Linked DNA regions of Homo sapiens. The protein of the gene in region 4 interacts with the protein of the main gene of each other region in a biochemical or structural test. Each region holds a gene or a part of one and is shown on either strand. Other genes may lie near its edges.

Region 1 (3,009 bases), on a different chromosome or scaffold from region 4:
GTCTGTGTCCATCCTTCACTCTCTGGAAGGTCTTCCTGATGTCTAACTGCATTCACTCATACTGTGCCTCTAGGCAGCCGGGACCACAGGCTTTTGTCCCCACGCTGTGGGATCTCCAGGGAGCTTTGGCCTAGACTGTCTCTCTCTGTGATTCCCTGTGTGTCTGTCTCTTGTGTCCTGTGGGTCTCTCTGTCTTCTCTCCTCCTCCCTCTCTGTCTTTCTTTCACCCTTTCCTTCCTTCCTGTCAACATCTTATCTGCCCCCCTCCTTCCCCTTCATCCCGGTCCCCTTTCTCTCTCACTGTCTCCTATTCTTTCTTCCTGTTTCTCTTCATCCCTGTCTCTGAGTCCCTGTTCCTCTGTCCTTGTCATTCTGCATCCATTCTTACCTCTTTGTCTGCCTTTCTCTGTTTCTCTGCCTCTGTGTGGTGTCTCACCTCCATCCTCACCTCATCCCATCACCTCCCCAGCCCTCACCCACCCACCACTCACCCACTCACTGACCATGCCCTGCCTCCCTGTCGTGGCTGGGCCTGCTTGCTCCCCGTGCCCAGCAGAATCTGAGCTCTACACATGTCTTGGAGAAACCAGGGTCTCGCAGCTCCTAATTCTGGAACCCAGGGGCTAGGCAGAACCCGAGGCAGGAGCCCAGTGAAAGGAGAAGCCCCATGGAGCTCTGCCTGGGAGTAACCAAGCCTGTTTTGTGTTTCTTGCTCTGCTCTGTATATATAGAGCTTCTCTTCCCTCCTCCGTAGCTGAAAGCCCCCAACCGGTCCGAAAGCTCCTTGAAGACCGTGCTGCCGTGCACAGACACGGGTTCCTCCTGCAGCTGGAGCCCACGGTGAATAGGCAGGCGGGCCACAGGGCCCTGTGTGTCCCTGCTGCTTGCAGTGGCCATCTGCTGCCCACGCTGTCAGCAGGTTCTTTGGACTGGCGTCTGGAGGGTACACAAGGCGCCATCCCTGAAGTGCTGCCTGGGGCCTGCTGTTGGCCACAGTGGAATTCCTCAGACTCAAAGCCCTCCCCTCAGGGAAGTGGTGCAAAGCCCAGTCTGTAGTACTTGCTTGGGACCCAGGTGTCCTGACTCATCACGGCCCTGGGACCTGCTTTGGGTCCCAAGCAGCACCCAAATGAGCAGGATGAAGCCCTGGGCAACATTCTCTGAGGGACACAGACAATGCCTCGAACCAGGCATGTGGGGCTGAAGGAGCCCACAGGAAGCCTGGCTGGAATTGCCCCCAAGAGATGTCCTCAACAGAATGTGAAAATTCCCCTTCCTGTGAATGCCAACCTCCTGGGAGCTCTTGCTCCACCATGGCCCCCACACTTGGCCAGAACCAGGGCTATTAAGAGGTTTTGAAGGCTGGTCCAAAGAACCAGGGTTGGTGGATTAGAGTTGCTCATGTCCTGTTGTGCCCTGTCATGGCCTGAGCCGTGCTTAGACCAAACGGTCTTCTCTGCCTTCTCCCTTCCTTGGCTCTGGGCTCTATCTGTGGGATATACCGTGGAACCCAGCTGTAGGATGTGTTTCTCACCCTGTGATAGGGATGTGCCCGTGGACAGAGCTGGCAGGTGGCTGTGAAACTGGTGTTTGGTGTGGCCTGAAGCCACAGATGGCAGCATCTGGGGCAGACCCAAGCCTGGACTTGACTTTTCTGTTACAACTTTCCCAAAACATTAGGGCCTCATGCTCCCAAGACACTTGGCCGGGTAGACCATGGCTTCTGGGGTGGCCTGCATGGCCCTATGTTTTCTGTTACTTGCCTTTTGCAAAGGACTCTTGCCCCTGTTCCTCCCAGTCTCCTCCTTCCCCCATCCCAGGTGTCCCTCCCGCTTTCTCCCTGGCCTCCTGTGTGCTGTGGCTGTGGCTGGTGTGTAGCCACTTGGGGCCTGCACCCAGAGGGGTCTCCAAAGGGTGGCAGGGCCTTGTGCTGCCAGAGTGGGTACTCCCCCTTGTGGGGCCTTGCTCTGGCTGGGCTGAGTGTGCACCCACAAAGCCTGTATCCACCTGGGCTGTTTCCACTTCCCTGCAGGACCTTCTTCTGAAGTCCAAAAGGGGAAACCAAATTCACCGTTAGGAAACAGTGAGCTCCGGCCCCACCTCGTGAACACAAAGCCTCGGATCAGCCTTGAGAGAGGCCACACTACACACACCAGATGGCATCCTTGGGACCTGAATCTATCACCCAGGAATCTCAAACTCCCTTTGGCCCTGAACCAGGGCCAGATAAGGAACAGCTCGGGCCACTCTTCTGAAGGCCAACGTGGAGGAAAGGGAGCAGCCAGCCATTTGGGAGAAGATCTCAAGGATCCAGACTCTCATTCCTTTCCTCTGGCCCAGTGAATTTGGTCTCTCCCAGCTCTGGGGGACTCCTTCCTTGAACCCTAATAAGACCCCACTGGAGTCTCTCTCTCTCCATCCCTCTCCTCTGCCCTCTGCTCTAATTGCTGCCAGGATTGTCACTCCAAACCTTACTCTGAGCTCATTAATAAAATAGATTTATTTTCCAGCTTATAGGAGTGAGTGTGGATTTGGGCAGCAGATTCAAGGCTGCAAATCAAAAAACCATAAGGTTTGTGGCCCCTATTCAAGGGTGATAGACAGATCCCAGTGCTGTGATCTGGGTCTGACATGAAGGGTGTGATCAAATGGCCAGGGCTGGCTTGGAGCAGAGGTTGAGAAAGCAGGAGATGGGCTGGGCTGGGCTTCAATGTCTTCTCAGCAGAGATGGTAGGAGATGAAGTCTGTGTGGCAGGGATTTTGCTCAATTCCAGAAAGCAGAGCTGAAGGCAGGAGCCCCGAAGGGTCACCTCATGATATGGGGTGCCCAGCTTCTTTCAAGAACGACACAGCCACCAATGCTTCTCCTGAGGTCACCACGACAGCATGTGAGGGAGGAAGATGGCAGGGTCCACTCCCTCCGTGGAAGCACATCCCACAGAAGCTCATGGGAAATGCAAGGGCTTGAGGCAGGAAGGCATAACTCCGGGGGCCCAGCAGGGGGAATGT
Region 2 (3,500 bases), on a different chromosome or scaffold from region 4:
ACAGTATGAAGTTTTGAAATGTTGGCACCAATAAAAAATGGGAACGGCCGGGTGCGGCAGCTCACACCTGTAATCCCAGCACTTTGGGAGGCTGAGGCGGGCAGATCACAAGGTCAGGAGATCGAGACCATCCTGGCTAACACGGTGAAACCCCGTCTCTACTAAAAGTACAAAAAATTAGCTGGGCATGGTGGCACACGCCTGTAGTCCCAGCTACTCGGGAGGCTGAGGTGGGAGAATGGCGTGAACCCAGGAGGCGGAGCTTGCAGTGAGCTGAGATTGTGCCACTGCACTCCAGCCTGGGTGAGAGTGAGACTGTGGTTCAAAAAAAAATGGGGAACAGTTATCACCAAAATTTAAAGTATATTCATTCATGGTATTGGTTATGACAGTGGCAGTACACGCTGTTGTTACTGGCTTTGCTGACATCAGGCCTGAGGGATACAGAACTCGTTCTATGATTCAGTTACTGAAAACAAAGACCCACCAGAAGGTCTTTACTCCATCTGGGGCACAGTTTGGGTGAGCTTTGCTCATTACCATAGGTAACATTTTAACAACTAAGTCTGAATTCTGAAAATATAAACTCACAAAGGTTAGTGGAAGACTGTTTCCAAGCTAAAAGAAATGTAACTAACTTAGGAAACCATTTAAATAAACATAAACGGACAATCTTAGTGGGTTTTGGCCCTGTGTATACCAGCAGTGTCAGCAGCTCCTAAACCACAAACACAATGAAACCAAAGGGTTTTCTTTCAAAAATCTAAAAAAGGAAGATGCAAGATTTGAAACCAATTTCCAAAATCTATACAAGGCTGCCAGGCCAACAAATAACGGTCAGAGTGACTTTGTTCCTCTGCTCCTTCAACATGGGAACTAGTGCAGAGTGGCTCATGCCCACGGTTGACAGCCCATTTACGGCCACAATCATGTCACCACACCTGGACAAAGAGAGACAGATACAGAATGTTACTATTTTCATGGTATTAAAAATATCCCAATTGAGATTTATGTAGCATGAAAAATGCGGTTTCACTTACCACTGAACTGTCAATGGTTAGGGTGTATAATCTACTTTGTCTGGGACAGCCCTTAAGCCTATGCTGGCTTTCCCTTGCCAATCAAGGAAACCCCTGTGCCGATGACTCCATAACCAGTAGGTGAATGTCAAGGACAAGCAGAGTAATTTTCACACTAATTTAAGCAAAATATAGAGTAAATATGCTCTCTCTTTAAAAAAATACCAAGTCATGCATTTGAAGGGGGTTATTATTTTGACTGCTATTTTTCTATTCATTCTTAGAGCTCATACATCTGAGGGCTGAATTAAATTGGAAATAAGACCCATACTTCCTCTTCTTTCAGCTGTTGACGCTCACTGTACTCTAAGCAGAATTATTATGGATGGATGATGAATTGGAGGACCTTTCCAGCCTTATAATTACCATAATTATCCTTATGGTTTTTGGTCTTCTATTTATACCATAAATATACTATTTTATTGTTAACTACCTCAATTTCTTTTTGGAAGTAGGAGGAATACAAATTATAATTAACAGAGGCCCAGACTGGTTAAGTAACTTAGCTAAGAGAGTGATTAATTCATTTTTCCCTACTCTGTCCTCCTAAAATGATTTTTTTTCATCTTTATCAATATAGGCTGACCTGGAGCATACCACTCCCAATCACCTTTCCATACATTATTTAGATGTCACTTACTCCTTGCAAACAGTGTACATTCTCCATCTGCATAGCATTCTATATAGAATGTCAACATTTACTTTTTAAGAACTGGTTCTTCCTTCGTAAACCAGGTATTAAGAATTTACAATCAACCACCTCCTCTCTGCTGGTGATGATGTCTTGCCATGACACCTTCTCTTTTCTTCTCCCAGTGCCCGGGCTTTGATAAGACGCTGTACACTGAGCGAGGACTTTTGCTCAGTGGTAGAGGCTGGCAGAGGGGTTAAAGTCCAGGGATCTAGAGCCAGATAGTCCTGGGTTTGAATGCCAGCCAACCACTTTCAGCTATTTCATTGTGGGCAAGTTTCTTAACCTTTCCAAGCCTCAGTTATCTTGTTTGTTTTAAAACAGGGATAATAAAGAAACTTACCTCATAGGATTGTTAAAAAGATTACATAATGCATGCACAGCACTTAGCACCGCGCCAGGCATCCTGTAAGCTATTGTACATTCATTCATCAAATATTTATGGAGATCTTACTTTATGCAAGGTATTGTTATGACTGCTAGGGATATAACAATAAATGCAACAAGATCCCTCCCTTATGGAGCTTGCATAAATACGATCTCAGGTAGAGATGAGTGCTATGGAGAAAAATGAAGCAGAGTCATCTAATGACAGGACTGGACCTGAGTAGGCTGTGTGGGAAACTTACTCAGCGCTCAATGTCACATCACAACGTGATGAATGAAATATGTCCAATGAAATAACTCAGGTTCAGTTTCTGTCATCAGATTAATGAAACATAGCTATAAGTGACAAGACAGTAAAGGTAACATTTCAGTCTAGATCGGGATTGGCAAATTTTTTCCGTAAGGGGTCAGATGGTAAATATTTTAGGCTTCAAGACCCATACAGTCTCTGTCATGATGACATCAACTCCGCTGGTGTAGTGTGGGAGCCAGAGAGTACATAAACCAGTAAGTGTAGCTGCACTGCAATGAAACTTTATTTTCAAAAAGATAATGGGCTGGATTTAGTGCTGACCCCTGACCCCTGGTCTAGATCATGTCCAATGTCATCAACATGAATCACATCATTAATTAGAACAAGACTCACTTTAATCTTCCATCATAATAAGCAGGAGTTCCCAAGACAATAGTTTTAATGAAAAAAGGCTGATTGGTGTGGTTCTCTTCATATCCACCAACGATACTAAAGCCCCAACTTCCCAAGTAACTTCTTCGTAAAACTATATCGTGGCAGCTATGAAGTGTGCTATAAACAAACAGAAAAATAAAGAAAAAATTAACATGGAGGCTTTTATAGCCGCTTATTTTTGTTATAACCCCATACCATGTTATATTTACCACTCTTGGAAAAAAGAAAAAGGGCTATTAATAAATAGATTATTTTGACAATCCATCTTCTAGCAGAGACACAGTCCTAGGTAGACTCAAATTTCTCCAACTTTTTTCAGTCTTCCCAAGTGAAGACACACACACACACATACACACACACACACAAGTAGAGAACCTGGTTACAAATTACACCTCAGTAACCTGTACAAAAAGGTCATGTACCTATATCAGCTCACTGCATTGTCAACAAAGTCCTCAATTCTACTAATCACTTTTATCTACAAGAGGAATTACAATGTGGGATGAAAGAGGTCTAGTACTGCCAAGCCCAGCATGCAAATGAAAGAAGAAAAAGATTAGGAACGCAGCTTCCGAAAAGAAGGCAGATAATTATCTCTCTTTTCTAAAGGTCCTATAGGCTTTTAGTCTACATGAGGAGTTATTTGTTATTTTCT
Region 3 (3,500 bases), on a different chromosome or scaffold from region 4:
ATGACCCAGAGTACTAGCCTCCCTTTCCCTAGGGAACCTGTCCCTTAGAAAAGGTTCAGCTGTCTACCAGGTAGGGAGAGACACAGTAGAGGTGAGTGTGGATAGGTCAACTTACAGTGTAACCACAGGGGAGAGAGGGAAACCTGGGTTGGAATGCTGGCATTTGCTCCCCTGCCCTTCCTTGAGTGTGGTATCATCACTGAAGAGTTCCGCGTGGGCAGGGCAGAACTGCTGCCCTGCTTCTGGGTCATTCTCTGAGTCCCAGTGTTTACTATTGATGTTTCTGACTCAAGCCCTTCTAGCTTTGCCCTTTCAGGGGCAGGCATACCTCAAAACCGTAGACTGGTGTGAAGGTGTGGGTTGCCCCTCCACACCTGTGGGTGTTTCTCGTAAGGTGGAACGAGACTTGGAAAAGAAAAAGACACAGAGACAAACTATAGAGAAAGAAATAAGGAGACCCGGGGAACCAGCGTTCAGCACATGGAGGATCCCGCCAGCCTCTGAGTTCCCTTAGTATTTATTGATCATTCGTGGGTGTTTCTCTGAGAGGGGGATGTGTCAGGGTCACAAGACAATTGTGGGGAGAGGGTCAGTAGACAAACACGTGAACAAAGGTCTTTGCATCATAGACAAGGTAAAGAATCAAGTGCTGTGCTTTTAGATATGCATACACATAAACATCTCAATGCTTTACAAAGCAATATTGCTGCCCGCATGTCCCACCTCCAGCCTTAAGGCGGTTTTTCCCTATCTCAGTAGATGGAACGTACAATGTCTTGGTTTTATACCGAGACATTCCATTGCCCAGGGACGGGCAGGAGACAGATGCCTTTCTCTTGTCTCAACTGCAAGAGGCATGCCTTCCTCTTATACTAATCCTCCTCAGCACAGACCCTTTACAGGTGTTGGGCTGGGGGACAGTCAGGTCTTTCCCTTCCCACGAGGCCATATTTCAGACTATCACATGGGGAGAAACCTTGGACAATACCTGGCTTTCCTAGGCAGAGGTCCCTGCGGCCTTCCGCAGTGTTTTTGTCCCTGGGTACTTGAGATTAGGGAGTGGTGATGACTCTTAAGGAGCATGCTGCCTTCAAGCATTTGTTTAACAAAGCACATCTTGCACAACCCTTAATCCATTTAACCCTGAGTTTGACACAGCACATGTTTCAGAGAGCAAGGGGTTGGGGGTAAGGCCATAGATTAACAGCATCCCAAGGCAGAAGAATTTTTCTTAGTACAGAACAAAATGGAGTCTCCTATGTCTACTTCTTTCTACACAGACACAGTAACAATCTGATCTCTCTTGCTTTTCCCCACACTGGTGAGTCACTCCTCCTTTCCTCTCCCTCTACTCCCAGGAGTGAATTGTTCCCTCCAAACTAGAAACTGGTGACTGGCACTTCCTAGTTCTACCTGGAACTAGGAAACGAGTGGCAGTGGAATTTCAGTGTCCTTTAGTCTTTGCCTTCTGGCTCCAGATCACTTTTTTTTTTTTTGAGACGGAGTCTCATTCTGTTACCCAGGCTGGAATGCAGTAGCATGATCTTGGCTCACTGCAACCTCCACCTCCCGGCTTCAAGCGATTCTCCTGCCTTAGCCTCCCCAGCAGCTGGGACTACAGGCACGCGCCACCACGCCCGGCTAATTTTTTGTATTATTTATTTATTTATTTGTTTTTGAGACAGAGTCTCTCTCTGTCGCCAGGCTGGAGTACAGTGGCACGATCTCGGCTCACTGCAAACTCCACCTCCCGGGTTCATGCCATTCTCCTGCCTCAGCCTCCTGAGTAGCTGGGACTACAGGCGCCCGCCACCATGCCTGGCTAATTTTTTCTATTTTTAGTTGAGACGAGGTTTCACTGTGTTAGCCAGGATGGTCTTGATCTCCTGACCTCATGATCTGCCCGCCACGGCCTCCAAAAGTGCTGGGATTACAGGCGTGAGCCACCGCGCCCGGCCCCTAATTTTTTGTATTTTTAGTAGAGACGGGTTTTCACCATGTTGGCCAGGCTGGTCTCGAACTCCTGACTTCAAGTAATCCTCTTGCCTAGGCTTTCCAAAGTGCTGGGATTACAGGCGTGAACCCCTGCACCTGGCCACTCCAGACCACTTTTACCTCACCATGTTGCTCTTCAGTTCCTTTGTGATCATGTCTTGTGGAGTCTCCAGCCCAGTTCCGATTCAAGATAGAGCTACTGTGATTTTTTTTAAAAAAATTTAATTAGAATAGGTTAATTGACATGGTTTTATAATTAAAATGATATCAAAGGGGTGGGGTATCTCATTCCCATGTTGCTCCTGTTCACCCCAAACCCCAATAGTTTCTAATGTCTCTTCAGTGTTTCATTTTACAGATACAAGTATATATAAATAATACTTGTTTTTTCTCCCCTTTCTGACACAAAAAGAGGCATACTACATATATTCTACATCTTGCTTATATATATATATCATGGAGTTTTGTTGTTGTTGTTGTTGTTTTTGAAACAGGGTCTCACTCTGTTGCCCAGGCTGGAGTACAATGGCATGATCATAGCTCACTGCAGCCTTTTTTTTTTTTTTTGAGACAAAGTCTTGCTGTGTTGCCCAGGGAGGAGTCCAGTGGCGTGATCTTGTCTCACTGCAGACTCTGCCTCCCAGGTTCAAGTGATTCTCCTGCCTCAGCCTCCCGAGTAGCTGGGACACAAGCGTGCACCACCATTCTTGGCTAATTTTTGTGTGTGTGTATATATATATATATATATATTTTTTTTTTTGAGATGGAGTCTGGCTCTGTCACCCAGGCTGGAGTGCACTGGAGCAATCTCGGCTCACTGCAAGCTCCGCCTCGCGGGTTCACGCCATTCTCCTGCCTCAGCCTCCCGAGTAGCTGGGACTACAGGGGCCCGCCACCACTCCGGCTGATTTTTTGTATTTTTTTTAGTAGAGACGGGGTTTCACCGTGTTAGCCAGGATGGTCTCGATCTGCTGACCTCGTGATCTGCCTGCCTCGGCCTCCCAAAATGCTGGGATTACAGGCATGAGCCACTGTGCCCAGCCTTTTGTACATATTTTTTTAATTTAATTTTTTTTTTTTGAGATGGAGTCTTGCTCTGTTACCCAGGCTGGAGTGCAGTGGCGTGATCTCGGCTCACTGCAAGCTCTGCCTCCCGGGTTCACGCCATTCTCCTGCCTCAGCCTCCCAAGTAGCTGGGACTACAGGCACCCGCCACCATTCCCTGCTAATTTTTTTTTTTTTTTGTATTTTTAGTAGAGATGGGATTTCACCATGTTAGCCAGGATGGTCTTGATCTCCTGGCCTTGTGATCTGCCCCCATTGGCCTCCCAAAGTGCTGGGATTACAGGTGTGAGCTGCCCGGCTAATTTTTGTATTTTTAGTAGAGATAGGGTTTCACCATGTTGGCCAAGCTGGTCTTGAATTCCTGACTTCAAGTGATCCGCCTGCCTTGGCCTCCCAAAGTGCTGGGATTACAGGCATGAGCCACCGTGCCTGGCCTCACT
Region 4 (3,500 bases):
TTTTGGAAAATATTGATGGTTTTACCTTTGTTGGTACTTGGGCAATATACCAGATTATTTCTAGCACAAAAGAGATAATGTCTGAGTTTTGTTTCATGTGGCAAAAAATAACAGCCATTAAGCATCCTGCCAGTTCCTCCTAAAATACTTGAACCCAGCTAAAAGAGACCAAAGACATTGAGTCCATAGAAATTTCTACCTGCTTTTATCTATTTTTCTCACTAGTTAAGAGATTTCTCAGTTAATCTCTTTTGCTTGATCGCCTCTTTCAGCTATCCCATGTTTCCCCAAAAAATAGTATTAAATTTAGAATGTTGGAGCTGATGAGGACTTCAGATGCCATCATTTTATACATAAGGAAACGTGGGCCCAAATGGAGAAGCAGCAGCCTTCCATCTGGCATTGTCTTTCAGTCTGATCTTCGAGAAACAGTTCAAGCATAAGCAGGAGGAAAGCAATCTTTAAGTCGTTGCCGTGATGATGCCATTATATTCTTACTGATATTTACATTTTACAGAATGTCTTCTTTAATGTTACCATATATTATGGGCATTTATTGAAAATAATTGTGTAGATTCCAGACCTCTTCTGCCTAGTCAGATCATCTATATAAATGTTTCACCAATTTCTAGAACTCTGAGTCCTCTGGAGGAATCCTGAGTGATGGCAGTGCAAAAAGCAGATTTGCTTCCTATTTCCTGTAATGGTGGATGAGATTATTTGGATAAATCCTCCTGATGAAAAAAAATGAAAAGTGCCGCAGAAAATATGTTTTTCAAATGACCTTGAAAGCACTGAATAGCTGAAAAGGTATCAGGGGCCAGGCATGGTGGCTCACACCTGTAATCCTAGCACTCTGGGACGCCGAGGTGGGCAGATCACTTGAGGTCAGGAGTTCGAAGCTAGCCTGACCAACATGGTAAAACCCTGTCTCTACTTGAAATAAAAAAAAAAAAAAAAATTAGCCAGGTGTGATGGCAGGCACCTATAATCCCAGCTACTTGGGAGGCTGAGGCAGGAGAATTGCTTGAGCCCGAGAAGTGGAAGTTGCAGTGAGCCGTGATCGCGCCACTGCACTCTAGCCTGGACGACAGAGTGAGACTCTGTGTCCGGGAAATAAAAAAAGGTACTGGGGAGCTCAGTGACCAATTTTTTTTTTTTTTTTTTTTTTTTTTGAGACGGAGTCTCGCCCTGTGGCCCAGGCTGCAGTGCAATGGCATGATCTCAGGTCACTGCAACCTCTACCTCCTGGGTTCAAACAATTCTCCTGCCTCAGCCTCCTGAGTAGCTGGGATTACAGGCACCCGCCACCACATATTTTTAGTAGAGACAGGGTTTCACCATGTTGGCCAGGCTGGTCGTGAACTCCTGACCTCGTGATCCACCCACTTTGGCCTCCCAAAGTGCTGGGATTACAGGTGTGAGCCACCACACCAGGCCTCAGTGACCAATTTTTATGTGAAAGCCTTTAATAAGAATGATAAGTGGAATATCAGAGTTACCAAGTGGCCCATTTTGCAAACAGGGCATTTGTCATTACTGAACACTTCTGTGCCAGAGAACCAAGGTTAAGATCTAAGGCCAGTACAAGTTGGGGAATCTGTTAGAAGACCCTCCTCATTGTTAGGAGTGCAAGAGGCAGTCCCCCCAGGCTAAAAGGAAACAGATAAGCATACCCTTATTTCCCTTCAACACCGGAGGACTATAGAGAAAGCTGCCTTGTCACTGAGCAAAGCAAAAGATGAGGAAATTGGGAACAAACTTCCAAATTGTGGCCACCAGTCCACCTTGAATGGATTTGCACCCAGGTACACACAGCCTGGGGCAGCCAGGGGAGCTGAAGCCATGTACTTGATTTGAAGTTTCCCCTTTCTTTACTAATAGTTTCAGATGTATGGTATAAACAGAAAGTCTCTGAAGGCAAACACTTTTATCCTAACCCCCACTAACTTCATCCTATCCGCCCGACATAAACTTTTTCCAGGGCAGTAGCCAGCAAGTCAAAATTATCAGGCACACAAGGAAACAAGTAAGACCCAACAGAAATGACAGATAGTAGAAACAAACCCAAACCTACTGCATATATTGGAATTAAGAGACAAAGATTTTAAAAATAAGCTTACGAAGTTGGTTCGTTTGTTTTTGAGACAAGGTATTGTGCTCTCGCCCAGGCTGGAGTGCAATGGCATGATCATGGCTCACTGCAGCCTCGACCTCCTGGACCCAAGCAATCCACCCACCTCAGCCTTCCCAGTAGCTGGGACAACAGGCGTGCACCACCACACCCAGCTAATTTTTTTCTTTTTCTTTTTTTTTTTTTTGTAGAGATGAGGTCTCACTATGTTGCCCAGGCTGATCTCCAACTCCTAGGCTCAAGTGATCCTTCCACCTTAGCCTCCCAAAGTGCTGGGATTACAAGTGTGAGCTACCACGCCTAGCCCAGGTTTTTAAAAATCAATAATAAGCTTGTAAAATATCTTCAGAGAGCAGAAAAAAAATGTTAATGACATAGCAGATTTTAAAAAGAACCAGAGGAACATCCAGGGGGAAACATGCAGTAACAAAATTAGAATCTCAGTGGTCACACCTATTAGAATGGCTAACATTTTTTTGAAGTTTCATCAGTGGGTAAATAGATCAATAAATTGTGATATAGCCATACAATGGAATGCCACTCAGCAATAAAAAGGATCAAACTATTGATATATGCAGCAGTATGGATGAAACACAAGATCATTATGCTGAGTGAAAGAAGCCAGGCAAAAAAGAGAACACGCTATATGATTCCATTTACATAAACTTCTGGAAAATGCAAGATGGGGGTGGAGGGAGGGAGGAATTACAGAGGGGCATGAGGAAATTCTGGAGGTAATGAATATGTTTTTCTTTTTTTGGAGACGGAGTCTCGCCCTGTCACCCAGGCTGGAGTGCAGTGGCGCAATCTCAGCTCACTGCAACCTCTGCCTCCCCGGTTCAAGTGATCCTCCTGCCTCAGCCTCCCGAGTAGCTGGGATTACAGGCGCCTGCCACCACGCCTGGCTAATTTTTTGTGTTTTTAGTAGAGACAGGGTTTCACCAGGTTGGCCAGGCTGGTCTCAAGCTCCTGACCTCAAGTGATCTGCCTGCCTCAGCCTCCCAAAGTGCTAGGATTACAGGTGTGAGCCACCGCAGCACCCAGCCATTTTTATTTTTTATTTTTTATTTTTATTCTTCTAAAGTCAAGGTCCCTCTCTGTCTCCCAGGCTGGAGTGCCGTGGTGCAATCTTGGCTCCTTGCAGCCTGGAACTCCTGGATTCAAGCAATCCCCCTATCTCAGCCTCCCAAGTAGCTGGGATTACAGGCGCCCGCCACCACGCCCAACTAATTTTTAAATTTTCGATAGAGATGAGATCTCACTATGTTGGCCAGGCTGGTCTCGAACTCCTGACCTCAGGTGATCTGCCCGCCTCAACCTCCTAAAGTGTTGGGATTACCTGTGTGAGCTACCACACCTGGCTAAG

Evidence for each region. The genes of interacting proteins can lie anywhere in the genome.
Region 1: the proteins of CASK (region 4) and USH1C interact in a test that uses a peptide from one of them, tested with the Homo sapiens proteins (one large-scale study listed by IntAct).
Region 2: the proteins of CASK (region 4) and LNX2 interact in a test that uses a peptide from one of them, tested with the Homo sapiens proteins (one large-scale study listed by IntAct).
Region 3: the proteins of CASK (region 4) and F11R form a complex in vitro, tested with the Homo sapiens proteins (2 studies listed by BioGRID and IntAct, with this or other methods).

What each region holds. Positions count from the first base shown.
Region 1 is NC_000011.10:17,493,400-17,496,408, reverse strand, and holds the end of USH1C (harmonin), read left to right. Parts: intron 1-731; coding exon 732-840; coding exon of another isoform or gene 841-1,056; exon of another isoform or gene 1,057-1,996; intron 1,997-2,032; coding exon 2,033-2,077; 3' UTR 2,078-2,509; downstream 2,510-3,009. UniProt on the Homo sapiens protein: Anchoring/scaffolding protein that is a part of the functional network formed by USH1C, USH1G, CDH23 and MYO7A that mediates mechanotransduction in cochlear hair cells. Required for normal development and maintenance of cochlear hair cell bundles.
Region 2 is NC_000013.11:27,547,530-27,551,029, forward strand, and holds part of LNX2 (ligand of Numb protein X 2), read right to left. Parts: intron 2,963-3,500; coding exon 2,804-2,962; intron 942-2,803; coding exon 806-941; 3' UTR 1-805.
Region 3 is NC_000001.11:161,014,653-161,018,152, reverse strand, and holds part of F11R (junctional adhesion molecule A isoform 1 precursor), read left to right. Parts: intron 1-3,500. UniProt on the Homo sapiens protein: Seems to play a role in epithelial tight junction formation. Appears early in primordial forms of cell junctions and recruits PARD3.
Region 4 is NC_000023.11:41,549,555-41,553,054, reverse strand, and holds part of CASK (peripheral plasma membrane protein CASK), read left to right. Parts: intron 1-3,500. UniProt on the Homo sapiens protein: Multidomain scaffolding Mg(2+)-independent protein kinase that catalyzes the phosphotransfer from ATP to proteins such as NRXN1, and plays a role in synaptic transmembrane protein anchoring and ion channel trafficking.